Linked DNA regions of Homo sapiens: regions 1, 2, 4 and 5 are each linked to region 3. The links come from fine-mapping of genetic effects on gene expression. A gene starts in region 3. Each other region holds a variant in brackets. All regions are shown on one strand. Distances are between the middles of the regions. Region 1 overlaps EXTL3 (exostosin like glycosyltransferase 3). Region 2 overlaps EXTL3 (exostosin like glycosyltransferase 3). Region 3 holds the start of EXTL3 (exostosin like glycosyltransferase 3). Region 4 overlaps INTS9 (integrator complex subunit 9). Region 5 overlaps INTS9 (integrator complex subunit 9).

What was found. PIP is the estimated chance that this variant, and not a neighbour inherited with it, causes the effect.
Region 1: its variant is the best candidate, but not a certain one, in a credible set for the expression of EXTL3 in whole blood (TOPMed, PIP 0.82).
Region 2: its variant is the best candidate, but not a certain one, in a credible set for the expression of EXTL3 in atrial appendage (GTEx, PIP 0.53).
Region 4: its variant is the best candidate, but not a certain one, in a credible set for the expression of EXTL3 in tibial nerve (GTEx, PIP 0.89).
Region 5: its variant is the best candidate, but not a certain one, in a credible set for the expression of EXTL3 in whole blood (TOPMed, PIP 0.56).

Annotation. Positions count from the first base shown.
Region 1 is chr8:28,749,431-28,755,456 of GRCh38, reverse strand. EXTL3 (exostosin like glycosyltransferase 3) reads right to left here. Exons shown (of 7, transcript NM_001440.4): 7 at 1-4,800. The coding sequence ends at 4,591. Among named protein-coding and RNA genes, the nearest start is that of EXTL3, 51 kb to the right of the region's middle. RefSeq lists enhancers at 1,797-2,739, 2,740-3,684. The variant C/T (reference allele first, on the strand shown) is at 3,838.
Region 2 is chr8:28,734,917-28,739,916 of GRCh38, reverse strand. EXTL3 (exostosin like glycosyltransferase 3) reads right to left here. Exons shown (of 7, transcript NM_001440.4): 5 at 2,254-2,398. Among named protein-coding and RNA genes, the nearest start is that of EXTL3, 36 kb to the right of the region's middle. The variant A/TA (reference allele first, on the strand shown) is at 1,966.
Region 3 is chr8:28,697,710-28,703,958 of GRCh38, reverse strand. EXTL3 (exostosin like glycosyltransferase 3) reads right to left here and starts at 2,458. Exons shown (of 7, transcript NM_001440.4): 1 at 2,300-2,458. EXTL3-AS1 (EXTL3 antisense RNA 1) reads left to right here and starts at 2,495. Exons shown (of 3, transcript NR_126027.1): 1 at 2,495-2,599; 2 at 3,916-4,518; 3 at 5,485-5,556. RefSeq lists silencers at 1,890-2,299, 2,400-2,469, 2,540-2,719.
Region 4 is chr8:28,768,284-28,774,532 of GRCh38, reverse strand. INTS9 (integrator complex subunit 9) reads left to right here. Exons shown (of 17, transcript NM_018250.4): 15 at 3,453-3,551; 16 at 4,507-4,644; 17 at 6,211-6,249. Among named protein-coding and RNA genes, the nearest start is that of EXTL3, 70 kb to the right of the region's middle. The variant C/T (reference allele first, on the strand shown) is at 2,890.
Region 5 is chr8:28,783,908-28,790,156 of GRCh38, reverse strand. INTS9 (integrator complex subunit 9) reads left to right here. Exons shown (of 17, transcript NM_018250.4): 11 at 2,268-2,328. Among named protein-coding and RNA genes, the nearest start is that of EXTL3, 86 kb to the right of the region's middle. RefSeq lists an enhancer at 1-235. The variant C/T (reference allele first, on the strand shown) is at 2,717.

The sequences.
Region 1 (6,026 bases), 52 kb before region 3:
CATAAACGTCAAGACAGATGAAGAAAGGTAAAACAATTTGCCTAAGCTGTGATTTCTAAGTGACCCTCTTCACTTTGTCAAAGCATTCATTCATGAGAAAACTATGGAACTCCTGTGTTCTTGAGAGGCTGCAGTCCGGTGTGGGAGGCAGAGCAGTGGCCAGCACACAGCATGGTGAGGCGACAGAGCGTGGGGGCTCTAATAGGAGGTGAGCAGGGCACTCAGCCAGGCGCTGGCGCTCAAACCTAGCGGAAGGCAGAAAGAGCCATGAAGAAGTGGACACTATTTTACTCCAGTAATAGTTCATTTTTATTGTGTCAAACAGTGGACTCTACGTATATTATATTATTTAACTTTTAACATATGCTTAAGAGATGGGCACAACTTTTGCCACCGTATGGTGGGATTAGAGCCTAAAATAGTAATAGATAACTTGCTCTCCACCAGTGTGATGGGCAGCCCAAGATCTGCACCCAGTCTGTTCCAGGGCCCAGACCTTTACCCACTACATTCTCCTTTCTTCTTTTCAGTATCTTCATAACATTCTAATTTTTTTGTAGAGATGGGGGTCTTGCTATGTTGCCCAGACTGGTCTTGAACTGGCCTCATGTGATCCTCCCACTTCTGCCTCACCAAATGCTGAGATTAAGATGTTAGGCACCACACACCACCATCAACATTCTTCTTAACACATTTTGTAAACCTTGTGGAGCCTTCCACTTCAGTGATGATCCCATCAACAGCTAACATTTACCACCTTGGCAGACCGTAAGTCCAAGACACAACTCGACAGGTATAGACTCAAAGCAGACATCATATCTCTGTGTATAGGAAGACACATTTTCTACAGCCTCATGCCACCTTCTCAAGTCTCTCTGGTCCCAGGACAATCGTAACATGGAGATGGATGGCTGGAAGAACAGGAGCTTGACAGCCAAAACTCCAGACCCAAAGAGGAATGCCCCTCGATGACATCTCACCCATCAGCTGCTGCAAACTTGCCTGATCAGTCGTGAACCCCACTTGAGGAGGGACACCGACTGTTAAGTCTCACCCATTCTTAGGACTGTCAGTGTGACCAAAGCTGCCACCTGCAGAGCCCAGGAGAGGAGTCCTCGCCTTTACCCCCTTTCCCATCTCCATCCTTCTCCCCGAAGCCCACAGCTCAGTGCCCTCTCCTGAGGAAGCCTCTGATCCCACAGCCAAGCACAAGATCTAGGCCTGTGGGCACCAACAGGATGGGGCTCTGCAGTCAGGGAGCGTCAGCTCGGTGCAGGTACAGGTGCCTTAGTGACCTATAGGTCAGGGGCATGACCTATGGACCGAATCGAGCCATTCACAGTGAGGCCTCACCTGTCCTGGGATCGCAGGCACACACAGCTCCCCACAACCACTACACACACACACACACACACACACACACGCATTTTAAATTCCCATGAAAAAATTAACTTTGCATATATGGGCCACATGCCCTTCCACATCCTGCTTAAAGCACCTCAACAGCCCCTAAGTTCCTGTTTTGTCAAAATGACTTGCCCTGGAACCGGGCACAGGCAAGGCTGCCCATGTGAGTGTGAGTCTGTTCACCCATCTCTGGTCCACAGCCCACACCAGGGCCTGGTCAGGCTGCCTCCCATCGTCTTCTGCGAGCAGGCCCAGCTGGCATACACAGGTGGCGACCTGGAATCAAGCAATCAAGCAGGTGCCTTCTCTCAGGTCACTCTTCCATACTTGCTGAGGAAAACCACAAAAGACCTCCAAGCTGCTTGAGTTAAAGTCTCCATTTATTTTTATTTTTTTACAAAAATCCAATGTAAGACCATTGTGCTCGTGACGAAAAGGGGTGGGGTGGATGGACGTGGCATGGATATCAAAGCTTCCCCCCACAAACTAGGAGCTCCCCACTCTGTCCGGCGCAGCTCCCAGAAAGATCCCATCCTTCCGGACAGGACCCCAGCTGGTGAGCCCTGGCCTGAGGCACAGTCCACACGGAGGAGCACTGCCCAGGGAGCCAGCGCTCACAGTGGCCTGCAGAGCCCTGGGACGGTGTTATGGTAAGACAGCCCAAACCGGAGCAGCAAGCCGGCCACCCAGAGAACGAGGCGCTCCTGCACCCTGCGAGCCAGGACAAGGTGGCCAGGGGCGGCCCACAGACAGCCAAGGAGACCCGGGGTCTGTGGCGCCGCTTTCCCATCTCAAGCGAGTCACAGGTCGGCGGCTTTCCCGTGGTGAGAAGCACCTGACCAGTGACACTGTGGCCACCTTGCTGCCTCTCGCTGAGGAGGGCGTGCCCCTCAGAGCCTGTCTGCAGTCCTTCAAGCCAGTGTTCCTTTCAGGGTCAAGGAGGGCTGTCCTTGTTGGAAGCACCGGCACCACAGCCCTCCCTGCGGCATGTTTTGGTGTCAGACCACTCAGCCCTTCTTAGATCCACCAGTGACATTCGGGGCCCGACAACCTGGCTCCACTAAAGGGAGAGGCCCTGGCTCCACCACACAGACGGCCCCAGCTCACTGAGTCCCGCTAAAGGGGGTCCCACCACACAGACGGCCCCGGCTCACCGAGTCCCACTGAAGTCAGTATGTGAGTTCCTCACATTAAAAGAAACCAGATGAAATAGCAGCCACAATATAGCGCCACACACCACACTCTTTGGCTCCCCGAGGGAAGAAGGCTACTGCTAAAAGGAATACAAGTCAGGAGTCAGGTAGAGGGCAACTAGAAAGTTCTGAGGAAGGGCGTCTGACCCCCACTGCTGGGAACATAACCACACTGCCTCAGCAGGGGAGCTACAGGCTGATGCTGGGGTTGGGGGCGGGGAACCTTTGGAAACACAGTCCTGGCGGCGGCCGGGTCCGGTTTGCCAATGGGGAGAGTTCCCTTAAGCCGAGCTAGCCCTACAGGTGGGTGGGAGCTACACAAAAGAGCCCAGCTTCAAAACAGTACTTGAAGAGGACCCACGTGGTACAGGCAGGTCAGAGGAGAACGTATTCCAAGAAATAGAAGCACAGGATGCCAAGGTCTAGGGAAGACGGAACTGGCTTAAGGCATGTGCATGACCAGGACAAACCTGAGCTTTTGTTCAGTTGCTAGAAAACTTCCAGAGTCAACTCCACTTCCAGAAAGTAGGGTTCAAGAAACACGTCATGGGCTAAATCCCTGACAAATGCCACTCACACCCTCCTAGGTTCCCCTACTGCCACCGTGACCCAAAAAATTAGCTTATTTCAGTTTCAGCCCAGGGAACAGAATCCTAAGCAGGGAGTGGAAAGTGGTAACTCGGGTTGTGAATGCCCGTTAGATTCCAAGGCTGGATGTGAGCTTACACAGCAAATCACAGCCTCCCATTGTTCTAGCACATACCAAACCTCGGGGAGTCCTACAGCCAAGCTGACATTAGGGGTCCAAAAACCACAGATAACACAGGATGGGGCTCCAGACAGAGGCGGGGGGAAGGTGAATTTCACCAAGGAATTATCCCAAGGCAGGCGCCTTGCTGTAAAACTTCCCGGCCAGCCGGGTGGGTTCCTCGAAGGACACTGGCTTGCTCTACACTAGGGAGAGGAGGCTGACCTGCAAACCACTTCAGACCACAGCAGATGTGCACGCTGCTGATCTCCTGTCCAATCCAAGAAAGAGCACTTCAGAAACGCCTGAGGCCCACAGCACGTGTGTTTCAACAGAAGAGCAGGATAGAAAGAGCCATCTGGGAGTGGCGTCTTCAGCCCCTATTCTTTCTCACTCTTTGCTTCCTCATTCTCTCTCAAACAAGAGAGAAATGGGAGAGCAGGGATAAGTACGGAGGCAAGCCTGGCCTAAAGATAAATCCTCAAAAAT[C/T]GCTGGCCCCAGCAGCAGGAAGCTGAACAGCCCACCAGGGTCAGGCGCTCCCAGGGATTCACTGGGAAGAGAATGTGAGTTACAGGTTGCTGACTGGCAACAGAAAGGGTAAGGAAGAGACCTTGTCCAGGCCCGCAAGAGGGCCAAGTTCATCCCTTTCTGGTTGCTGCACACAGATGGCGCTGGGGAGGATGGGAGATGATCTTTAAGGATAAGCCAGTGACACAAGGCCAGGACCCATCTCCGCCAGAATACAGAACAAAGGAGCCTGCGCGGTCCCTCCCTTAGAAAGGCAAAACTCACACTCCCCCAGCCAAAAATATATATGTATGCAAGTGTGTGCATGTATTTATATACACACACATATATATAAATAAGCCTTGAATGGCAAATCTGAAACTTTCTCTTTTTAAATAATCATAATAGTTGTTATTGAATGTAAAAACCACGAACCAGCTGTCCTGGGCGTACGAACGGTGTGAGTGACTCTGCAGAGTCGCCACAGTCCTCAGTGTAAGCTATCAGTCAGTGCCCTGTGTGGGGAACCCCGGGGACTCCGCCCAGGGCTCCAGGCCCAGTGTGGCTGACTTCAAGATAAAGGCAGCGGTTTCCTTCCACTCCTCCTGCTGCCCCTTCCAGCAGAGGCTCTGGGCCACCCACCAGCAGATGTGCCCAAGGTCCTGCAATGCCTAGGAACCTTGGGAGCCATCTTCCTCCCTCTGCTCATCCTCTTCCCCAGACCGTGCGCTGCCCCTAGATGAACTTGAAGCACTTGGTCTTGTCATGGGGCAGGCGTGTCTTGAAGAGCACAGAATCCACCCTGAACTGCGTGTACAGGAGGGGCATGTAGCCGTACACCTTCACGAAGAAGTTGATGCACTTGTGCCGCTCGTGGAAGTGGGAGTCATCATGAGACAGGGCCTGAGGGCATCCTGGGCATCGGAATGTCCACCGTGAGGTCACCTGGAAACGGGAGAGAGAGACAGAGTGGGAATCCCAGCTAATACTGACAGAACCCTTGCAGCTGAGCCGATCCCACACTCCCATGTCCATGGTGAAGACGCTGATCCCCTCAGGGGCAACATCCCTGCAGAGCATGGCAGGAACCAGAGCCCGGCCCCAGGCCTCCTGCCTACCAGATGTCTCCAGAACATTGTCAGGTATTCTGTTGAGATGGCCTACGCTTCTCAGATGCCAAAAGCCTTAACGTGTGTAGTGTCAGCTGTCTCAGTAAGTCTACTCCTAGTATGTACTTGGTTGCAGAGCCATAGGTAGGTACCGAGTTGTTTGTTTCATCAATGTTTTGAATCAAAATATTGAAGACTACCCAAAGAGGGGCTTTGGGTATTGAAGACTACCCAAAGAGGGGCTAGTCAAAGAGGGGCTATCATTCTTGAATACTGTCCATAAAAAAGATGCTTAACTACATTTAAAGCCATGGGAAAGTGGCCATACTACAGTCTAGTCATATTATTATTAATTAGAAAATGTCTAACTAAAAAAGTATGAAGAGGGACAGCTTCATTACAATGTGGCAGGCCGAATGGCATAAAAACCCCTCAGAACACCTGAACATGCAAGAAGAAATACATAAACCATCTCTTTAAATACAGGGCAGAGCCTGTAATAAGAAATGAAATTACCTGGTGATTAATTCCAGCACTTTGGGAGGCCAAGGCAGGAAGATCGCTTGAGCCCAGGAGTACAAAACCAGCCTGGGCAACAAAGCAAAACCTCATCTCCACAAGAGATAAAAATATTAGCTGCGTGTGGCAGCAGGCCAGCTATCTGGTGTAGTCCCAGCTACTTGGGAGGCTGAGATGGGAGGCTGCTTGAGCCCACGAGTTTGAGGCTGCAATGAGCTATGATGGTACCACTGCACTCCAGCCTGGGTGACAGTGAGACCCTGTCACTCACTCACATACATACATGCATGCATGAATAAACAATGAATAATGAATGAATGAATGAATGAATGAATGAATGAATGAATGAAATCCTCAGAGGCCAAACAATGAAAAAGCAAATCCTGCAAGATAGCCATGAACTTGGGTTTTAAATGGGCTGGAGAAGTGACACCTGCAAAGCGGGCTGGGGGCCTTTGGAAACACTGGCTCCATGGAGGGGAGCAGGGAGGGGTGGACGCCTCACAAAGAAAGATGGGGAAGAAGTGTCTTTAAATTTATCTT
Region 2 (5,000 bases), 37 kb before region 3:
GGCAATTCAGAAGATAAGTACATCCTCAAGGTATGAGTAGACGCTGCTAAGATCAGTGGCTCCTTCTTAGCTGAGCAAGTGTGAAAATCTTGGCCAGTTGCTGACACCCTAATCCTCTGACTCTACTTGCAATCCTCAGTCCAAACAAGGCCCACCGAAGGAAAGGAAGTCCTGAGGTGAAGTGCAAGAATGGGATGAGTGTATCAACTTCACACATTAAGTTTTTAAAAGAAAAAGAACAGCTGAAAGTTTAACGACTGCTTAGGCTGGTTCAAACGTCCCTATATGTCAGGCACGGTTCCTCACATCTGTAATCCCAACACTTTGGGAGGCTAAGGCGGGCAGATCGCTTGAGTCCAGGAGTTCGAGACCAGCCTAAGCAACATGGCGAAACTGCATCTCTATAAAAATTACCAAAAAAAATTAGCCAGGTGTGGTGATGCGTGCCTGTAGTCCCAGCTACCCAGGAGACAGAGGCAGGAGGGTCACCTGGGCCCAAGAGGTGGAGGCTAAAATGAGCTGAGACCCCACCATTACACTCCAACCTGGGCGACAGTGAGACCCTGTCTTAAAAAATTAAAAAAGTCCCTATAAAAATGAATTTTATTGTTCTATTTGAGGTGACTGGCAAGATGCCACCATCTGAGATGGGAGATATGTAAGGGAGAAAAGACTTCAAGGAGCTAGGGAGAGACGGTGAGCTTTCCTGGGAAAAGTTTACCTGAAGTGTCTGAGGGACAAACGGGAGATATGCTGGAAACAATGAAATATACAAACGCAGACCTCAGCAAGAAAGGCCAAGGCTGGAATACAGATGAGGAAATTACCAGCCTGCAGATGCTAAGAAAAGCCTCAAAACCTTGTGTGTGAGACAGAACGCCTAGGGAAAATAAGAAGAGCAACAGAGGCTAGACCCCGGGACACTTCACCATTCATGCAGAGAGAGTGGTGGGAGGGTCTTCCGTGAGGACAGTGGAGGCACCAGAACCATGGAGGGCATGGATGCAGACAAAGAGAAGGAGGCAGGTGCCACCGTCTTTGGTGACTGTCAGGGCACGATGAAAAGGCTGGTTGATGGCAGCAAGACAGACGACAGGAGCTGCAAATGAGACTTTATGTGACAGCTGGGAGGGAAGTGTCATTGGTAAGCAATGAAAATGTTCCCTACACCTGCCCTGTGCCAAAGCACAGATGTGGGGAAATGAGTGCCTCAAAGTCTACAGGAAAAGGCTAATGGGAGCACTGTCCTCAGAGAAGACTCAGGGCACAGAAGAGGTGCTCTGTGTGGTGGGCAGTGGGGGTAATGCCAGGGTAATCTTAGAACAGGGACTCCTCAGGGCCCGGGAACACTTCAGGAGGGAGGTAGAGAGCGGCACTCACGGACACAGAAGGCAAACCACATACAGCACTGTAAACTTTCTAGAAGCTACATCGTTAAAAAGTAAAAAGAGACAGTAAAAATCAATAACTGTATTTAACCCAGTAATCCAAACTAACTGCATTTCAAGATGCAATCAACACAAACAATTACTGAGCTATCTGACACCCTTTGTTACAAGTTTTTGAAAGCTGTTGTGCACTTTACACTGAACAGCACGTCTCCATTCTGACCAGTCATGCACCAGGTGATCAGCAGCCACTTGTGGTCAGGGGCCACTTTACAGGATGGAAGAGGTAGAGAGGGAAGATGGGCCAGGAGAAAAAAACAGAATACAGAACAGTAGAGGAGGAAAGACTGCAGGGTCCTAAGCTTCAGATATTCAGTGAAAATCAGATTAGGAGGCACAGTGAAAGTAATAAGCACTAAAGCATCACAAAGAACTGGCAGAGCCACACAGAGGCTCATCGTGGGGCCCGGGACAGGCATGGTATATCTAAGTCAGAAAAGTGCCCAGGTCACCTTCTGATGGCTGGGCCATATCTAGGGTGGCAGTGTTAAAACTGGAAGGTATTTGAGGTGTCTTT[A/TA]GCCCAGTGCCCTCAGTTTTACAAACGGAGAGCCAACGCCCAGAAAGATAAAGTGGTTTCCAAATGGCCTATGTGCAACTGTACAGGCAGCCCTCTCATCTTGACTTTTTATCCCAGAGTTGCTCTAAGCATCTTGATCATTGTCTGTAAAAATAGAAAAAACTGACTTCTAGCACAAAAGAAACATGTAAGAAGCGTTAGGAGAGCTAAGCTGAGGGCAGCATTCCGCTACCACACAAAGGTGAAACTCTCACCAAGTCGATGCCATTATTACCAGCTTTTTCTTACCTTGTGAAAGAAGGCAGCACCTGTCAGCACCATGGACAGCTCACAGGAGTAGTTGGAGTTGTAGAGCCAGGACTGATGGGGGATGTCCCATGCGTGGTAACGGCCAGGGAAGCCCACGATGCGGTCCCGAGCTTCTCTCCACACCCTTGAAAAACACAAGTGCATACACAGACCTGAATACAGAGCTCTAGGGTCATCAGAAGTGTTCACAGTTATTGCCTCCACCTTACAAGCTCTGGCCCTTAGGCTTTTACTTCTCGTATCCTTTCAAAATAAAACAAAATCAACAACAAGCCAAACAGGATAAAAGCAAATAAGGTATCATATTCAGCTTCCTTAATAAGCACCTGCACATTGTCCCTCTAGCAGTCAGCATCCTCCAGCCCTTCCAGAAAGAATAAGCCCTAAGTTTGGAAAGGGGATCTCCAGAATGGGGTATGTACAATATCTACTAAGGAGGGCTCCAGAATGGGGTATATACAATAATCTACTAAGCAGCAGAAAGATGATATCAATTTCAATTCTTTTTTTAGCTTATTTAATTTCCAAGAAAGGGCTTGGTGGGATGGCTCATGCCTGTAACCTCAGCACTTGGGAGGCCAACACAGGAGGATTGCTTGAAGCAAGGAGCTGGAGACCAGCCTGGGCAACATAGCAAGATCCTGTCTCTACAAAAAAAAATTTTTGTTTGTAATTAGCTGGGTATGGTGGAGCACACCTGTACTACCAGCTACTTGGGAGGCTGAGGTGGAAGGACTGCCTGATTCTAGGAGTTCAAGGCTGCAGTTAGCTATGATTGCACCACCTCCCTTGGCCTGAGCAACAGAGCAAGATCTGGCTCTAAAAATGAATGAATGAACAAGCATTTTCTAAGAAAGGCTTTGTTTTTAATAAGCATGACATATTAGTTCAGAAGGACATGTATGTAATTTACATATATTGCACACTTTTCTTTTACAGAGAAGGAACATAATAAAAAGGTTTAGAGAGCACTGGTTTAACCACAGAAGACTACTGAACTGCACCACTCCTAATTCCAAATTTGAGCAGGGCTGACGGAGAAACATGTATGATGAGAAGTGGCCTACAGAACCATACAACTGAAAGGTTTCATTAAATGGAAGAAATAAATGGAGACTTCAGTATGTTTCAGTAGAAACTTCTATATCATCTCCAAATTTATAGGTAAATTAGAACAAATAAAATTGGTCCCCAGTTTCACAGGATAAATTGGAGAACTGAAAGCGTTTAAGCTCCACAGGACCTGACAGGCCTGCAGAAAGGCTGCCAGAGATTTAAACTGCCTGCAAACTCCCTCATCACTTACATGGAACTTCAGTTCCTAAGACACAGAAGATTTTATTTCAACAGAGTTCCTCTCCTAATAAGTCTAGAAGCATCTAATCTAATCCAAAAGAGGAGAAATCACAACTTCTATCACAATGTAACAGCCTTCTAGGTGGGTTTTTTTAGACAACTGATTTTTTTTAAATTGTGGCAAAACAAACATAAAATATACCATCTTAATCATTTTTAAATGTATGGTTCAGTGGCATTACGGACATTCACAGTGTCGTGCAACCATCCCTGCCATCCATCTCCAGAACTCTTTCATCTTCCCAAACGGAAACTCTGTCCCCATTAAACACTAATCCCCACTCCCACCTTCCCACAGCCCGGCAGCCCCTATTCTACTCTCCGTCTCTATGAATGACTACCTAGGGGCCTCACATAATGGAACCACAGTATTTATCCCTCTGAGTTGTTTGCACTTCTGTTACGAATAACGCTGCTCTGGCCATTTGTGTATTCCTTTCTGTATGGACACATGCTCTCAAGTCTCTTGGTATACCTTTTCTGTCCCTTATGATTGATTGTATCTGCCTCTTTCTTGGCTACCTAAGTTGAAGTGAGTCAAGATCTATCTTTGCCAGAAGAAAGAATTCTTAGACTTACCCTTTCCTTTGAACTTAGGTCTGTTTCATTCCCATTAAGGTGAAATAAGCAAATTGGGGAGATTAATAAGAGAAAGGTTTTAGATCAAAGGATGCCCAAATGCATGAGAAAAGGGTCAGGGTAGGAAAAGGTTAGGATGTATAGACAGCAATGATAATTCACCAGCTCCATTACCAGAGGCTAAATCTCAAACATGAATGACAGTTAAGAGACACATTAAAAGGCTTCCCATTATTCTCTCACCACCTGCAAATCTGCTGGAAAATAGCACGGGCAAGGTAAGAAGTCCCTAAATCAGGGGCTTGGAAGCTATGTTAATGCCAGCTATGTTAATAGGCTTCAAACTCCTTAAAGCTGGGCTCCTTATCAAAATCATTCTTGGATCTAAGGGTTGGCAGTTCTCCTGTTAACACTCCACGACTATGCTCACCACGCCAGTCCTTCGGCACGCTCCAAACTGCATCACGCTGCAGCATAAACACACTCCCTACCGCCCACCCCCACCACTACCACCTGCAGCAGCAAAGATCATGCCTGGAGTTACTGCATGGCTTTTTTCCTTTCATAAAAACAAGTGGAGAGAGTCAGCTACTATTATCGTGTAAAAAAAATACACCTCGGTTTACCAGGATTTTTTTTTTAATCACAGCTGTCAATAGACTTGGTTCAATAATACACTAAGCAAGAGGTCAAAGGAAATGTGAGAGGCTGGGTGGGGGAGAATAAGAACAGATGTTCTAATTTTTCAGAAATGTGTCAAATCATTCTTTACAGATGGATTTAAGACAGAT
Region 3 (6,249 bases):
GCTATTTCCATGAAACCTCCAAACGTGAAAAATCCTTTCTTCCCTCTCAGTCAGCTGCCCTATCATTGAAAGTCTTCGAAATGATAGTTGCCGAAATGAAGGGGTAACAAAAATAAAATAGAAATATGTTAATAGAAGTTTTCTGAGCTAAACTTAATAACCAGCGAATGGAGTAGGCAGTTTTAGGACGTTATGAAACGTCCTGGTTTCATATTCCTCGCCTCACTCTAGAGTAACATACAAAGGCGCTCGAACCTTTACCAAGAGTAGGTCTGATGGGACTTCATTTTTCTCCTAACACCTGAGTCTACATCAGGGAATCCCTCCCACCCTCCTCCAGAAGACCACCAGTCTCAACTGAGACAAGGACTCCGCATCACTCCTGCAGCCCCTCATCACCCATAACCCTCCAATCCACAGCTGGCCTAGGGCCCTGCGGAAAAGAACAGGTCTCTCTCTAGTCTTCTGCTGGCTTCAAACCACCCTCTGGACTTGCCCTCTCTCCTAGAAATACATTTCCCATGCTCGGCCTGGCCCGACTTACTTCTCTCCAAACTGTTCCCTTAAAATCTTTTTACTCCGAGGTCAAAACTCTTGAGGCCTAATCACTGAAAGATCCCAACTACACACCAAGTATTAACAGGGTTTTCCCCCACTAGAAAAGCGAGAAGTGGAGGGATACAGACATACGCCTGTCAATCATTTTTTAGGTAGGTATGCCCCTCACATCTCTGGACATTAAGCACGTTTCCGGAAGTCTGAAGAGCCACAATTCTGACTCTTCCAGAAAGCACTTAGGCTCGATTCTCTCTTGCTCGTGAGTTCTTATGATTCCTCCGGCTCCCCACAAGCAAACGAATGGGAAATTCCCACAGGATAAGGTATTTTTAACACATCAAATAACAGTTTAAGAAAACGGTTTTTCTTTCATCACAAAATATTTCAAAGTCCCTCTGCTAAATAGCAAGTCGCTGAGAAGGCTTCGCTTCGCTCCAGACTCTGTGCCCCGCAGTTACTATCCCAGCACACAGGTCACAGCGATAGTCACTGTATCAGAATGCAGGACTCACTGCCGAACAAAATACAGAAAACTGCAGAGTCTGCATGGCTGCAACACACAAAGCCTTTAAAAACAAAAGAAAGCACGGGGAGCTCTGCCAGTAAAAATGAAGCTACCTAAATTGGACAAAGAATAGGACAAAGTGACAAGAAATGCTAAAGACGACTCTTAAGTAAATCACATATGGGGGAAATAATGGACATGTTGTGGTGTTCTGCGCTTCCTCCTCCACCAAAGGAGTCGAACCAAGAGGACTTGATGAAGCTTTTAGAGTTTTTAAAAAGGGAAGAAAAATCCAGGTTGCGGGGAAGGGCGGGGGTGGGGTGGTGCGGGTGGCGGGGGAGGGGCAAAATCCACAAAATTTAAGTCTTCTGAGAGCCAAACAGATTTTATTAATAAAAGGAGCCGAAGCTCTCGCTCAATGTGGGGAAGAGAAAGCAGCACCCATCAGCAGCCGGGCAGCCCTGGCTCGCCTCCGAGGGGCTCGGAATAGGTGCTGTCCCCGTCGCTGGGCTCGGAGCTCCGCCGCGCACACACGCCCCGCGCACCCCTGTCCGGTCCAGCCCGTGCAGCGCGAGGCCGGCTCTAGGGGAGCTGGGCCTGGGAGCCAGGGTCCTGCAGCACCTGGACCCTCGGACAGGAAGCGGCTCCTCTGACTGTGGCTCCTGAAAGGAGGCGAGCCCGGCAAAAAGAGCCAGCGGGGAGGGCAGCAGGCGACTGCGTGTAGAAGCGGGGGGCAGATGTGGGAAGGTGTGCTCGGGAAGGGGTGGGGGTAGTCCGGAGCTGCGCCTCCGCCGACAGAAGATGCTCCGGGCCAGCAGCCAGAGAAACGCCGCGGGTCACAGAGGGTGGAGGGCTTCAGGGAGCAGAGGAAGCCCAACAGCTGCAGCCGAGCGTCCAAAAAAAGGTGGAGGCGGGTCCCGAGCAGCCCAAACTGGGACGAGAGAGGGCGTGTGGGGGCGGGGAGGGGGTGCCCCAGCCCAGGGACCCGTTAGCCCTCCCGGCTGCCGGCCGAGGGCCTGGCGGCCTCTCCCCGGGCCCCCGAGCCACCGGGCAGGCCTACTCCGCTCGGAGGCTGCATGCCTCCCGCCGCCGGGCAGCAGCAGCCTCCCCGGGGCACGGCGGACCCGGTCCCTCCCGCCGCGTCCCCAGCGCTCGGGGCCAGCCCCGGCACCCTCCCATGAGCCCTTCCGGGCGCGGCCCCCGCTCCTCGGGCTCACGCGCGGCCAGCAGTCCTACCGGCTTCCAGCTCAGGGACCCGCCGCCGCCGCCGCCGCCGCCTGCGCGAAAGTCGGCGTCCCAGAAGCCGTTCTGGCTGCCGGCCGCCCGCCTTCCAGGCCGCGCCTGATCCGCCGCTCCCCCTGCCGGCCGGCAGCCATTTCCGACAGGCGACTGCGGAACTTGCCGAAGGGCGCCGCGCCGGAAATGGCCGAAGCCGGCGTTCGCGAGCGGGGGCGCGGACGCGGGCGCGCGCTCGCCACTTTCCCGACCGCGTCCGAAGACCGCCGAGGCCTCCCGCAGCTCCGCGGTGACACCCGGGTCAGGGGCGCGGGGCCGGGCGCCGGGGATTGTGGGAGGCGCGGGGGGGCGCGCCGGCCGCCTTCGGAGCCCCCCAACTCGCGTCCTGCAAAGGCCGCCGGGCCCTGTCGAGAAGACCCGACCGCAGATGGCGGGGAGGATGCTCCCGGCGGCGTGGGAACCGGGTCTGACTCCCGAGCCACCGCCGCTTCCGCAGGGGCGCCGGCCCCGGGAAAGTCAAGTCATAAATCCCTGAATCTAAAACTCCATTCTCAGAGAAAAGGCCTCCAAGGACGGGCGCCGTGCGCGGCAACTGCCTGCAGTTTTGAAGCCCTTTGACTATTTCATAACAAAGACAAGGCCGGGCGGCTTGGACGCTTAGGAAAATCCTGGGGCTTTGCAAAAACAACAGGTTAATCTAGTCGTGTGGGATGATCACCAAAACAAGACAGGAAAGAAGAACACCGTGTCAATGCTGAAAAGCCAGCCCCTGTGAGCCCCAAAGTGCACGTTTTCCACAGTCCCAAGGAACACGTGACTGTGTGTTTCCACACTTGAGAAGTCAGGATAAGACCCCTTGGATAATGGAACAGGGGATGGGGGTGGGAGCAAGCACCCTACCTGGTCACCTGCTTAACTTAGAAACCAGCTTTTAAAACCTGTAACTGCAGTATGAGCTACGATCAAATTTGTCTTAACGTATTTTTTTTAATGTTTTTAATACCCAGAACACAGGGCTTCTACTCCAGGGTTTCCTCGCCAGGGAACCCCAAACACACAGGACCTGGAGAAGCCGGGTAGAGCTGGCTCCTGGCCCTGCGCTTGGGTGGTCGGCTGCCTTAAGAAGAACTGCACCCCAGAGACAGGCTCGCAGCTGCCGACCTTATCCACTCGCCCTTTCTGCTGGAGCCCAGGCCCAGTGCTCCAGCAAGGAGGCTGAGAAAATGCTGAAGACTGATGCCCACGGGGGACAGCTTGGGCTAAGGATAACGTTTGCAAAACAAACCTTTAAAAACCCATAGCAACCTGTTTCCTAGAGCACACTCTTCATCTCTCCACCCCCAAACTAGTCCCGACTCGGATCCTCCTTTTCCTATCCTCTTTCTCTTGCTCTCCCGTCTCCTATTCACTTTTCTTCTCCTTTCCTCTTGATTATTATAAACAAATGCTTTCCAAGTCTTACCGCCATCATATGTGTACATATGCAACCCTTACTGTTACCAATTTGTTGAAGTCAAGACAGGAGGAGGCAAAGTTTAAAAATCAGAAGTATTGCAGGAAATGAAAATGGAGTGAGTGTTGCCTGGGTATCATAATTTTTTTTTTTTTTTTAACAGTTCCTCTACTTGGCTCTCCTCCAAAGGTACGCGGCCACAGCAGGCAGGGGCTTGGCAGTGTGGGAGGAGACACCACAGAAGACAGGGAAGAACTACCAGGCCTTGGTTCATCTCCACACTGGCGAGAGAGGACGTGCAGTTACCTGCTACCTGTTCGACTCAGTCTTTTACGTTGGAGTAACTTAACACATTGCTGCCCTTAACTTTGACTTACTTGCTTTTAAAGATGATGAAGCTGGCCAGGCGCCGTGACTCATACCTATAATCCCAGCATTTTGGGAGGCCCAGGCAGGTGGATCACGAGGTCAGCAGTTCAAGACCAGCCTGGCCAACATGGTGAAACCCTGTCTCTACCAAAAATACAAAAATTAGCTGGGCGTGGTGGCGCGTGCCTATAATCCCAGCTACTCAGGAGGCTGAGGCAGGAGAATCACTTGAACCCGGGAGGCAGAGGTTGCAGGGAGCCGAGATCGCACCACTGCACTCCAGCCTGGGCAATAGAGCAAGTCTCCATCTAGGGAACAACAACAACAAAAAGATTATGAAGCCTTAGGAAGAACAGGGATATTCACCTGCTGCTGAGCCCCCCTCCGCTTTGATCTTGTGAGTCTGCACTCTCCTGCTCCCCTGTCTCAGTCTCCTCTAGCTCCTGTTCCTTCTCCTACCTTGTGTTCTCTGCCAATGATATGACTGGGGCTACTTTCTTTTTTCCTTCTCACACTCTCTTCTTGCTAATTTCAACCAATTTCCCTGCATCATCTCCACCTGCAAGCTGGTCCTTTACAGCAGAGCTTGGGGCCCTGCTGCCCAGTAGCACTCTGGACACCCTCACATCATCATCATCATCCTATTTTTATTTATTTTTTGGAAACAGGGTCTTGCTCTGTCGCCCACACTGGAGTGTAGTAGTGCAGTAGTGCGATCACGGCTCACTGCAGCCCCGATGTCCCTGGGCTCAGATGTTCCTCCCGCCTCAGCCTCTGGAATAACTGGGACCATAGATCCCTTCCACTGTGCCTAATTTTTGTTTTTTGTTTTTGTTTTTGTTTTGAGACGGAGTCTCACTCTTCTTGCCCAGGCTGGAGTGCAGTGGCATGATCTCGACTCTCTGCAAACTCTGCCTCCCGGGTTCAAGTGATCTCCTGCCCCACCCTCCCGAGTAACTGGGATTACAGGCACGCACTACTGTGCCCAGCTAATTTTTGTATTTTTAGTAGAGACAGGGTTTCACCATGTTGGCCAGGCTGGTCTCAAACTCCTGACCTCAAGTGATCCGCCCACCTCGGCCTCCCAAAGTGCTGGGATTACAGGCATGAGCCACCACGCCCGGCCTAATTTTTGTTTTGTTTTGTTTTTTTGTAGAGACGGGGTTTCAACCATGTTGACCAGGCTGGTCTCAAATTCCTGAGCTTAAGCAATCAGCCTGTCTTGGCCTCCCAAAGTGCTAGGATACAGGCGTGAGCCACCACGCGGGGCCTTCATCACCCTATTAATATATACTTTCTGATACTTAATTGCCAGGCAATAAGCTAAACCCTTTTATTCACTGTCTCACTTTAATCCTTACAGGGAAGTATCGGCTGCCAGATAGGGAGCTGAGACTTCAAGAAGCTAAATAAGGTGTCCAACACCACAGAGCATGGAGCAAAGGACACGGGACTGCAAATCTTCCTAACTCGTGTGCTCATCTGGCTATCTCACCAGGGCCTTAAATTTAATATATCCCAAACTGAACTCATCTTTACCCCTTCCCACTTTGCACTCCTCAAATGTCCTTGTTTAAAATAGTTACCTTTATCTTTCCTAACCCAGAAACTCAAAACCTGGCATCATCTTTGACTTCTCTCTTTACCTTCACATTCAACAGTTTCCAAGACTTAAAGGCTTTATTTGTAGGATCTCTACCACTGATCCTCTACAGTTTCACACCTACATCCCATTCTCGTTCCCAAATCCCCATAACTCCTCTCCTGGCCCATCCCTTAACACTGAAATCCTGGCTTGGAAAATATGGTCACATTCACAGCAGCTGTCCCCAAGAAGGAAGCCAAGGCAACAGTATGCACAATGAAGTGAGTCTTCACTGATCTCTCCATATTTTGACATTTTACAGCACTTATTATCTCTACTTTGTATTTTGAAACTGAATCCAAAATAGTTTTGCATTTGTTGTTTAACAGTCATGTATGTAGTTTTTTTTTTTTTTTCTTTTTTTTTGGAGACAGAGTCTGGCTCTGTCACCCAGGCTGGAGTGCAGTGGCGTGATTTTGGCTCACTGCAACCTCCGCCTTCTGGGTTCAAGCAGTTCTCGTGCCTCCCTGAGCAGCTGGGAAT
Region 4 (6,249 bases), 71 kb before region 3:
TTCACTTTCTCTGGATTGTTTTTGTCTGGTATTTTACAGGGGCTGGGATTGACGGCCTTGGTTTAGATTTCAACTCTCTAAGCCAGCATTCCTTAAACCTTTTGGTCTCAGACATCCTTACAAATAGAACTCCAAAGAGGTTTTGTTTATGTGGGTTATGTCTATTGATGTTTGCTATATGAGAAATTAAAACTAAGACATTTTAAAAATATTCACTTAATAATACAAACCTATTATATGTTAACATAACTAAGGGATAAAGACAAAAGCAAAAATCAGTCCCAGTGCCAGGGATAAATGTTAAGATTTTGATGTATTTGCCTTGTCTGTTCACTGTGTGTGTGCCTACTGGAATCACACCTCATACACTGTCGTCTTTTTCACCTATCAGTAAGTACATTATATCATTTAAGATATTTCAGCCAGGCATGGTAGCTCACTCCTGTAATCCTAGCACTGTGGGAGGCCGAGGCGGGTGGACAATGAGGTCAGGAGTTCAAGACTAGCCTGGCCAAGGTGGTGAAACCCCATCTCCACTAAAAAAAATTAGCTGGGCGTGGTGTCACGCACCTGTAATCCCAGCTACTTGGAGGCTGTGGCAGAGAATTGCTTGAACCGGGAGGCAGAGGTTGCAGTAAGCCAAGATCATGCCACCGCACTCCTACGTGGATGACAGAGCGAGACTCTGTCTCAAAAAATATATATTTCAGCTGGGCATGGTGGCTCATGCCTGTAAACCCCAGCACTTCAGGAGGCTGAGGCGGGGGTGAATCACTTAAGGTCACGAGTTCAAGACCAGCCTGGCCAACATGATGAAACCTTGTCTCTAATAAAAAAACAAAAATTAGCCACAGGCGTGGTGGCAGGCGCCTGTAATCGCAGCTACTCGGGAGGCTGAGGTTGCAGTGAGCCAAAATCGCGCCACTGCACTCCAGCTTGGGCAACATAGCGAGACTCCGTCTCAAGAAAAAAAAAAAAGATATTTCAAAAGCTTCAGCTTTAATGGTTGCATAATGGTCTGTCATAATTTAACAGTTCCTTTTTTCATAGATTTTTTTTTTTTTTTTTTGAGACGGAGTCTCGCTCTGTCACCCAAGCTGGAGTGCATTGGCGCGATCTTGGCTCACTGCAAGCTCCGCCTCCCAGCTTCATGCCATTCTCCTGCCTCAGCCTCCCTAGTAGCTGGGACCACAGGCACCCGCCACCATGCCCAGCTAATTTTTTTGTATTTTTAGTAGAGACGGGGTTTCATCGTGTTAGCCAGGATGGTCTCAATCTCCTGACCTTGTGATCCACCCGCCTTGGCCTCCCAGAGTGCTGGGATTACAGGCGTGAGCCACTGCGCCTGGCCCCTTTTTTCACAGATTTTCATTTCTGGTTTTTCTGTGTTATAAATAACACTTTTAGGAGCATCCTTTTACATAAATCTTTGTCCATATATGTTTATTTCCATAAGAAAATTTTCTGAAGTTAGAATTTCTGGGTCAAAGATTATGAACATCCCTTTCTGGCTCGAGGCTATATATTGCCAGCTTGTCCTCTAGAATGAGTGTGACAGTTTATACTCCCACAGCAGAGCTGGAGACAGCTCTTACTTCTGCCTCCTTGCTAATATTGAATGTTGTCCTTTTTTAGTTATTTTCCAATTTTATTCAAGTCTTTTCCAGTTATATAAGTATACACTGTTATCTAATTTTAAATTGTATGTCTTTTTTTTTCTTTTTTTGAGACGGAGTCTCGCTGTGTTGCCCAGGCTGAAGTGCAGTGGTGAGATCTCTGCTCACTGCAAGCTCCACCTCCTGAGTTCACGCCATTCTCCTGCCTCAGCCTCCCGAGTATCTGGGACTACAGGCACCTGCCACCACACCTGGATAATTTATTGTATTTTTAGTAGAGACAGGGTTTCACTGTGTTAGCCAGGATGGTCTTGATCTCCTGACCTTGTGATCTACCCACCTCGGCCTCCCAAGTCCTGGGATTACAGGCGTGAACCACCGTGCCCGGCCCTATGTCTTTTTTTGAGACGGAGTCTTGCCGTGTTGCCCAGGCTGGAGTGTAGTGGCACAGTCTTGGCTCACTGCAACCTCTGCCTCCCGGGTGCATGCAGTTCTCCTCCCTAGGCTCTCGAGTAGCTGGGATTATAGGCACATGCCACCAATCCTAGCTAATTTTTGTATTTTTGGTAGAGATGGGGTTTCACCATATTGGCCAGGCTGGTCTCAAACTCCAGTCTGCCCACCGTGGCCTCCCAAAGTGCTGGAATTACAGGCGTGAGCCACCGCACCCAGCCAAACTGTACGTCTTTGATCATTAATGGAGGTAACTGTCTCAATCCAACTTGCTACAGTAATTGCCTTTAAAATGGACATTATGGCCAGGCACATTGGCTCAGGCCTGTAATCCCAGCCCTTGGGAGGCCAAGGCAGGAGGATCACTTGATGCCAGGAGTTCAAGACCAGCCTGGGCAACACAGCAAGACCCCCGTATCTACAAAAAAATAATAAATTAGCCAGGCGTGGTGGTTCATGCCTGTAGTCCCAGCTACTGGGGAGGCTGAGGAGGGAACATCACTTGAGCCCAGGAGGTTGAGGTTGCAATGAGCTATGATCACACCACCACACTCCAGCCTGGGCAGCAGAGTGAGGCCCCATCTCAAAAAAAAAAAGACTCCTTCAGAGTCGTCTTGGAAATAGTGCATGGCTGCCCAGGGAGAGCGCAGAACGCCATCCCCAAAGCTCCCACCCCAGCCTTGTGCAGGGAGGAGGGGCCTGTGTGGAGGAGGCCTCAGGTGAAGAACGGGATCTGGCGCACACCCTGCTCCTCGGCAAGGGCCGCTTCACGCTCGCCATAGGCCGTTTTCTTATTTCATGAAACAGGCCTCACGTACCA[C/T]TTGCCAATCTGCTTAAGTATCCTAAGCTGCTTCCTCTGCCCGTTTGGTATTGATCTTCATGTTTACATAATGGCCTCTTGCATGTTTTTGTTTTTAAATAAAGGTGGCTTGGCTAGGTAGGGGTCTACATGTCTTAAAAACCATGCAGCTAAACCCAGCAACAGAGCACCTAATAAGGTCAGGCTGCACGGCAGGGCACCCATCAGGTGCAGGTGGTCGGAAAGATACCACCCCCCAGGTAAAGCCGTGGCTCCCACCATCAGGAGAAGTCAGACTTTCAGGAAGAGAGAGCTCCCTCAACCGCCATGCTGCTGTCCCCGTCCTTCCTGCCACTGGTCACCTGGAGAGGGGATGAGGGTGAAGTAAAGGCCAGAATGAATGAAAGGCTGCACTTGGTGTGTCACCTGGGCGACAGAGCAAGACTCCATCTCAAAAAAAAAAAAATTGTTTACCTTTAAAGTTATTTCATCTTTTTAGACTGCAGTGATGTAAATACAGATTAAAGGAAGAGTAATGGTCATCATTAAAGGCCCCCAGCCTGAACTGCGCCCTTTGCTTTCAGCTCGCAGATTCACTGGTGCCCATGGAGATCAAGCCTGGCATCTCCTTGGCAACTGTCTCGGCCGTGCTGCACACCAAAGATAACAAGCACTTGCTTCAGGTAGGGGGTGCTGGGTGGGAGTGCAGGGGACCCTCTCCCCAGCAAGAAACCAGACCACCTAACAGATTATATTTGAAATAGCGCTTCATGTGAATTCTTGTTGAAGAATTATTTCCCTGGCCATGTGCCTCAGAGAGGCTGCTGTGCCCAGAGATGAGGCCGCACGTCATCCCAAGGGCTGCCACAGGCACATTCTGTTGGGGAGCGCTGCCACGCGAGGCAGGGCTGTGGGGAGACGTGCAGGGTGGCAGGTGCAGCCCTGCCCTTGGGGGCTGGAACCGGAGGGCACCTGCGTGAGGCTGTGGCTACCTGAGAGCCTGGTCCTACCAATGACCCACACACAGGTGGGTGGCACTTCAGCTCCAGGGCAGGCACTGTGTCTTAAGAATTCCTTTCAGATCTGGACTGTGTCACCTTTATGCCACATGTAGAGTTGCTCCTAGCTACCACTTAAAGTCTATTAGACCCTGTGCTGGGTCCTTGACCCGCCTTGTCTTACTGAGCCGTCAGAATTCACTGCTGTCATCATTTCGTAGGCAGCTTCTCTAACCTTGGCCAGATGGTGGCAAAGGTGGGGTTTCCCCCTTTGGTCTGACCCCACAGCCAGTGTGCCCAGCCACGGGGTCATGATGTACCTGCAGCACGACACAGTGTATTCTGGAGAATTTACTCAGCAGATACTGAAGTGAACCACCTGAAAATTTAAAAATGGATCTTGATAGAAGGCAGAGATCTTAGCGAATAAGGTGTTGGTAGGCTGGACAGTTGAGCATTAGAGCGCGTGGATCTGGGGCTCCCGGCAGCCAGGGAACCTGAACCGAGTGCCGGCTGAGGAAACCGGGCCGGGGCTCTGTGGCCTGTGAGGACAGGATAGTCTCAGGCTCTCAGTGTGGCCTGCGGTGGCCCCTGCTGCTCAGAGGAAGCTCATGAAAGCCACTCTTTCCTTCTGCTCTAGCCCCCTCCTCGGCCCGCCCAGCCCACGAGCGGGAAGAAGAGAAAGCGGGTGAGCGATGACGTACCAGACTGCAAAGTCCTGAAGCCTTTGTTGAGCGGTTCCATCCCTGTGGAGCAGTTCGTGCAGACCCTGGAGAAGGTGAGCTGGTTTCGCTGGTGCCGTGAAAACTCCACACGTGGCAGCCTTTCCCTGGCTCACTATGGCCCCCTGGCTGCAGGGAGTGGATGTTGCTGCTTGTCACTTAGTCCCCACTGTCCTGTGGCATCTGTTTGGTCTAAGGTCCTGCTGGGAGACCCAGGAGAAAGAAAGCAGAGTGAGGAGTGCCCCATCCTTCCTCCCAGCACGAGGTCACCAGAAGGCCTCTCCAGACTGAAGAAAAAGCTGCTTCCACACACACATGTGACGAGTGGGGCAGGGTAGTGAGGCCAGGACAAAGAGGGACCCGGCCCTGCCAGAGTCTTGCACTTCCACAGATGACTCCTTGCTGTCAGAGGGGAGCCAAGTCTCCAGTCGACTGTCAGGATTTGCAGGAGGCAGTCGGGGGAGGGGACACTGGCCCTTCCCCTCTGTCTCAGCAGCCCTGATGGCTGCTTCTCCCAGAGATGAGATTTCTTGACTATGATTAAAAGAAAAAAATCTAACCTTAAAGGTTGTAATTTTGGCTTCAGTCACAGGACTTCAGAGATGACTTTATTAGGATTATAGAATCTTTGATAGGAAGAAGGAATTGGCTAAAGGTAATACTGTTCATGCTGCTGCTTGCAAGAACTGCAACAAATTACAATCATTACAAGGAAGGAGATTTCTATGAACTTTCTATCCAATGTAAATATCACAGTTGCCGACTTTCAAATCTTAAAGGCTTTCCCTTTCCTAGGATTGGTTTTCTCCACCTGTCTTTGATTTTCCCGTAGGGAAAAAGGCTCTGGCTGGGTGGTTGCGGCTCTCTTCCACCCTCCCTGAAGACCTTGCAGGGCTCCTGGGCCCTGTTAATGGGCCTCAAGCTGGACTTTTAAAAACTTAAGATGAGGACCTTCTGCCTGGCCCAGCCTATGTCCTGACCCAGTGTTCCACCCCGGCTCCTCTCTGCAGAAGGAGCAAGCACCTGTCCAAGTCCCTAGGGGAGCCTGCAGCCATGAAGTACAGGTGGCCTCCCCACACCGAGGCCCTTCACCTGCTGTGTGTCTGTTTCAGGCACATGCCTCCTTTCCATGTCACGTCTGATTTGTAAGGAATTTCTGTCCTTAGCATTAGCAATAGCTGAGAAGTTTGCACTGCTGCCTTCTCTCCTTCACTCTTGAGAGGGCTCTGCCAAGTCCCACAGGGGTATCTTGGTGTCACCTGGCATTTTCCTGGGAGCTCAGACAGCTGAAACTTAGGAGGGAGCTGTCACCAGGGAACGGCATGGTGCAAGCAGCTGAGCGTCCCAGACTCCTGAACACAGTGCTTGGACGTGCCCTCAAAGAACTCACAAAAGCTTAGCCAGGTTGTGGAAATTCTGTTGTTTTGCATGAGCTTTTGCATGTTTAGGGTCTCTTTTCAAGTATAAGAAACTATCACTATCATAGGCCTATGACTAGTCTGAAGAATTGTGTTGAGACGTGTCAGTTTCTAGAAAGTTCAGTCGAGTCTGTGAAGTGTCATTTACAGATCTCACAGATGTGCAGTCTGCCCAGCCCACCTCTTTCTTTTCTTCTGGAGCAGCATGGCTTCAGTGATATTAAGGTGGAGGACACAGCCAAG
Region 5 (6,249 bases), 86 kb before region 3:
TGCTGTTCCCTATCACTCTGGTTCCCTGGCTCTGTGCTTCCCGTTCTCAGGGGTTCTGCTCTGGCTTCTACATGGTCCTGCTTTGATGCCTGCAGAAGCCCAGCCCCTTGCTGTCCAGTGTCTGCCCTTGCTCCGAGCTAAGGGGCTTGGTTGTTTGGGTTGGTTTTGTTTTTGCAGGGGATGGAGATGGGAGGGAATAGCTCTTGAAAGACCTCTCTGATCTTTTGGAGTTTGGAGTGTTGGGGTTTGGAGTGTTGGTTGGTTGGTTGGTTGGTTTTTGAGACAGGCTCTCACTCTGTCGCCCAGGCTGGAGTGCAGTAGCACAATCACGGCTCACTGCAGCCTCAACCTCCTGGTCTCAAGCGATCCTCCCACCTCAGCCTCCTGAGTACCTGGGACTACAGGTGTCACCATCATGCCCAGCTAATTTTTGTACAGACAAGGTTGCATCTCGTCTGAACCCATGAACTCCTGGGTTCAAGTGATCTGCCCGCCTTGGCCTTCCAGAGTGGTGGGATTACAGTCCTGAGCCACAGTGCCTGGCTCTGATCCTTTTTTGAACAAGCAGTGGAAGAGTGTGCGGTACCTGAGGTCTGGCCATCAGGGAGCAGGAGGGTCTGTCACATTCCCAATTAGAGATAAACCTAGAAGCGCCATTTATTCTTCATTCTTCCTGATAATCTGGTATACACAGATCTCCTTTTGAACTCTAACAGCTACCCCCAGAAGAAGCAAACTCTAATCAGGTCCTTCAGCCTCTGTCTTAGAAAGGGGGTGGGTCCCTGTCTGCTGTGCCTGCATGAGGATTCTAGAGCAGAGTATGGAGGATCTGTTAGCAGAACTGGCCTAAGCATTATGTAGGTGGGCTTCACAATCTCTAATCATATTGTAATCTCTTCTGTATCCCTAATCTCTGCCTTTAATGCATGTAGGATAATGTCCTTTGGAACAATCAAAATAAGTTTAGAACCAAGCTCTTATATTTGTCTCCCTGAGCTAGAAATAAAGACAGAACTAGTGTCTATTTAGATAATATAAGGTAACCCTCCAAAAGCATCTTGCTCTTCCATATTTATATCTTCCAAGTAGGGTATAAAGTGATGTTTTTTTAAACCAAACTTAAACGAAACTAAGGGTAGGAAAAATTAGATACAATGTATTAATACAAAATCCAAGCCCTGAAGTCCTGAGCTCCTCCCCTCAAAGTAGTGACTATTTTTTTAAATGTCAAACCTGCACAACACCCACATATATTGATTTATCAACTGTGAACTTTTTGCCACATTTGCTTTATCCAGACATCTCAGTATTGTAAAGTCATAACTGACTAGGAAAAAGCAAATGTAAATTACCAAAAACATTCACATTGTCTCTAGCCTGTGATCCTTTGTTCTTCTCTAGTTGGAGTTACCAATGCTGCTGTTAAAAAGAGTGTGAGGGCCAGGCACAGTGGCTCACGCCTGTAATCTCAGCACTTTGGGAGGCCGAGGCGGGTGGATCACCTGAGGTCAGCAGTTTGAGACCAGCCTGGCCAACATGGTGAAACCCCGTCTCTACTAAAAATACAAAAATTCGCCGAGTGTGGTGGCAGGTGCCTGTAATCCCAGCTACTTGGGAGGCTTTGGCAGGAGAACCACTGGAACCCAGGAGGTGGAGGTTGCAGTGAGCCGAGATCGCGCCATTGCACTCCAGCTGGGCAACAAGAGCGAAACTCTGTCTCCAAAAAAAAAGTGCATGGACAAAAACAGAAGCCATGTCTCAAGGTGTAGATCACTTTCTTTGTGAAATTGACCACAACTAAATGCAATATGATACCACGGATTGGATCCTGGAACAGAAAAGGGACATGATTGGAAAAACTAGTGAAATCTGAATGAAGTCTGGAGTTTAGTTGATTGTCATTGGCCTGATGTTAATTTCTTAGTTGACGACTGTGCCAGTCATATCAGATGTTAACTCTGGGGACATAGGGTGAAGAGGCCATGGAAACTCTGTACTGTCTTTGCAGCTTTTCTTTAAATCTAAAATTATTCCAAAATAACAAGTTTATATTTTAAGAAAAAATGTATTGAGAAATTCTAAAGTTTAAAAACATACAAGATACATCTCTTCTCTGTAGGCACTGGATTTCATTCACAGTGAAATTCACTGGCGGGAAATTTTTAAATAAACTTCAGTATTTAATATTTGCACTGCTGCCACTAGGTGGCAACAGATGCCACCGTATGCTCTTCCTCACATGCTGATGTGTTTTTCCTCTTTAATAGGCTTTGTCACAACAAACAGAGTAAGGTGTATCTTCCAGAACCACCTTTTCCTCATGCAGAGGTAAGAAAACAAAATCACTGGGACATGGGAAGGAAGCAATGTGGATAACCTGATGCAGATGCAGACAGCAGGTCGTTAGATGAAATAGATTGCTGTGTAAACCTGTAGACCCCTTTGCCTCCCAAGTCAGACACAGGGAAGTATTTTAACTCAAGCTTCACTTGCTTTCCTCCTATTAACACTTTCTATTGCGCACGTGGAGCAGCCCTTCTCCAAAATGTTGTGGACCGCAGAATTGTTTCAGACTTGGGATTCGGGAATATACTTACTGGTTGAGCATCCCAAATTTGAAAGTCTGAAATCAAAATGCTCCAATGAGCATTTCCTTTGAGCATCATGTTGGTGCCCAAAAAGTTCAGATACTGGAACATTTTGGATTAGGGATGCT[C/T]AGCCTGTACCATGTTCATGCAATTCATAGCCTGCTTCTGTTCTACTGACTGCATGATGAATTGTATTTCGATACATATTACTACCTTTTTAAATTGGGTTTATGTATTGTCAGAGTGTTCTTTCCAGTTATGTCAGTCATATATGTACATTTTTAGTGACGAAAATAACATTTCAGTTCAACAAATAAAAGGCTTCTTCCTCCCTCACAGAACAAATGGGTGTTTTCTATATAGCTGAATACCTAGCTTTGTTGTCAGGTTCTTTTCACCCAAGGGTATATTATGAACGTTTTTCTGCGTCTCATGTTATTATTGCTCTACTACAATGAAGCTAACAGACAATAGTTACTCCTCATTTTTGGTTATATTTTCACTCAAAGATTCTCTAAATTGGTATCACCACCTTAGAAAACTGACAGTATTGGCTGGGCTCGGTGGCTCACGCCTGTAATCCCAGCACTTTGGGAGGCCAAGGCGGGTGGATCACAAGGTCAGGAGATCGAGACCATCCTGGCTAACACAGTGAAACCCCGTCTCTACTACAAATACAAAAAATTAGCCAGGCGTGGTGGCGGGTGCCTGTAGTCACAACTGCTCGGGAGGCTGAAGCAGGAGAATGGCGTGAACCTGGGAGGCGGAGCTTGCAGTGAGCCCAGATCGCGCCACTGCACTCTAGCCTGGGTCACAGAGTGAGACTCCGTCTCAAAAAAAGAAAAAAAGAAAACTGACAGTATCTGCTAAAGCTGAACAATGTACTCTATGCCTCCGCAGTTTTGTTCCTAAAGTATACATTGAACAGAAATGCATAGAGATGTTACCAAAAGACACACACACAAATCTAGAATTTGGTCAGGTGCGGTGGCTCACACCTATAATCCCAACACTTTGGGAGGCTGAAGTGGGAGGATCACTGGAGGCCAGGAATTTGAGACCAACCTTGACATCATGGCAAAACCCTGTCTCTACAAAAAAATACAAAAAATTAGCCCGGTGTGGTGGCACATGCCTGTAGTTCTAGCTACCCTAGAGGCTGGGGTGGGAGGATCACCTGAAGCTGAGGGAGTTCGAGGCTGCTGCAGTGAACTGCAATCGTGCTACTTACTGCACACCAGTCTGGGTGACAGAGCAAGACCCTGTCTCAAAAAAAAAAAAAAATCTAAAATTTTTGGTAATAGTACTGAAATATACTCAAATTCCCATCAACAATAGCATGGATTTTGTGGTATACTCACACAGTCCCTTACATCACTGTGAACAAATAAGCTCCAATTATATGCAGTGTAGATAAACTGCACAAACATAATGTGAGTGAAAGATCCAGATATAAAAGAGTAGATATGGTATGATTTTATTTACATAAAAGTTCAAAAACACAATAAACTGATCTGTGGTATTAGATGCCAGTGTGGTAGTGATCCTGGAGGGGAGGGGACAGTAGTGACAGGAAGGGGACAAAGAGGGATTTCTGAGGAGCTAGTAATGCTTTATTTCTTGATGTACATGTGTTCACCTTGTAAAAAATCCATCAAGGTGTACAGAGTTAGATATAAGGAAAGAGTGAAGGCTGGAATGAATCCTGTGCTGTTGGATAGAATTGATGGTATTGGTGTGAACTCCTATTTTCAATATATGTAGATACAGAAAGAAATCCACTTGTGCATGTGTGTGTATGTGTGTGTCTGTGCACATACGTATCTTCCAGCTCTGGCCACACAGAGGGCCTGGGAGCAGTGACATGCCACTAACTGAGGAACACATTTAGCTCCCACATGTTGGTTTCTAGATACCATTCTCCACTAAAAGGAACCAGGCCTCTTTGGAAAATACAAGATGAGGCTGTAAGATCTTGCTGTATGCTCAGAGAAAGATGGGGACATGTCAGAAGCCACATCTGAGGTCACTGGAACATCAAAATAAATAATGCTAGTAATGAATATAATCCACTGAATAACAGAAACTCCTGCATCCATAGTGAGGTAACTGAGTACATAGGCAAGAGGGGAAAGTTCTTCCAACAGTAAACTCATAGTTAACATAGGAAAGAACCTTAGAATTAGAAAATCACCATTTGGCAGCCACCGCAGTAATAATTTATTCCTGCAAGAAACACCAGTGGGTGCTAAAACCAGTGGGTGAAAATGTTATGAAGAACTAGATCATTTATAGTCCCAAAAAGTATGTCCCCACAAAAGTCATGTTTATTACAAAGACAGAAATAGTAACTGGAGTTTGGACAAACTTGACATATGCAGTCAACGTTAACATCACCAGTAATTGGACTAACTGACATTGCGTGGCTCTTAACACAAATTATTGAGAAAGCAGCATGATTTCTGTGATCCTGCTGCTAAAAATGCTTCACCTGAATCTAGTGAGCATTCAGACCCAAGTCGAGGATGCTCAACAAAATAACTGACCTGTACCCTTTGAGAATGTCAGAGACCTAGAGGACAAGGGAAGACTGAGGAACTGCCGAGAGAATGAAGAGATGTGACAGATAGATGTACTCCATGGCCATGGGCTGGATCTGGAAATGGAAGAAGAAAGATCTAGTTTGTTTGCTATTAGGAGCATTGATAACAGTTGGTAAAGTCTGAATCGGGTGTGTAGATGAGAGGGGGCAGTGTTGTGTCACTGTTCATTCCCTGCTTTTGATGGTTGTACTGTTATAATACATCCATGTTAACTGCGATTATCTCCCCACACTCATTTCTTTGATTGTCATATTTATAACCCCTCCTCAACTAAGGCAGGTAGACTGTTTTTACTTACAGCATGTCAGTGCAGATAGATATGTTTAGGGATTTAGTTGTTTTGTTTTATAGTTAACTAACACGTATTTCAACAAATGTCCTGCTAATTACTTTAAATGTAATTGCTGTTTTCATACTGTAAAGGATAGGTCTTTTATGAACCAGGATGCCAAGTAGAAGGTTTTGAAGAAGTTATTTTTTGGTCCCTGTAGTCTAAATAGTATTTTGGCAGCCAGGGTTTTTGCAAGCTGTGTCAATGCCATAGTGAAACACAGGCTAGAAATATTATAAAAATGTCAGAAAATTAAGTGTGGCAAAACATCTTGTGGTGGACTTTGCTCTTGAATGTCTGTTTTGCTTCCTTTGCAGTCAGCCTTGCTGTAGAGCTTGTTTTCTAGGAGTGTGATCACATTCTCACTCACACACCTGTCACAAATGACCTGGTGCCATTTAGAGTTAGGAATGTGAGTAGACTGTGGTCGTACCATGAGGGTTCCTCAGGTGCACTTGTCGTTGTTAGGGCATGAGGGAGTCAACCCTTGGTAATGTTACCAATGCCCATGAGAAACGGTGGTTCCACCCTTAGTACTGGTAACAAATTACTGTTCAGAATTCCTGCCCCACAGCTTCATTTCCACTGGTCAAATGCAGTAAGTTGGCTAGAAAGGTAGATCCAATTGGCAAAAAACGATGAATTTATCTTAGTTTCTGTGCATTGATCAGTAGAGCTACAGGAACTATAGATAATGCTTAAAAGTGACTTACGTGTGCAGAGACCT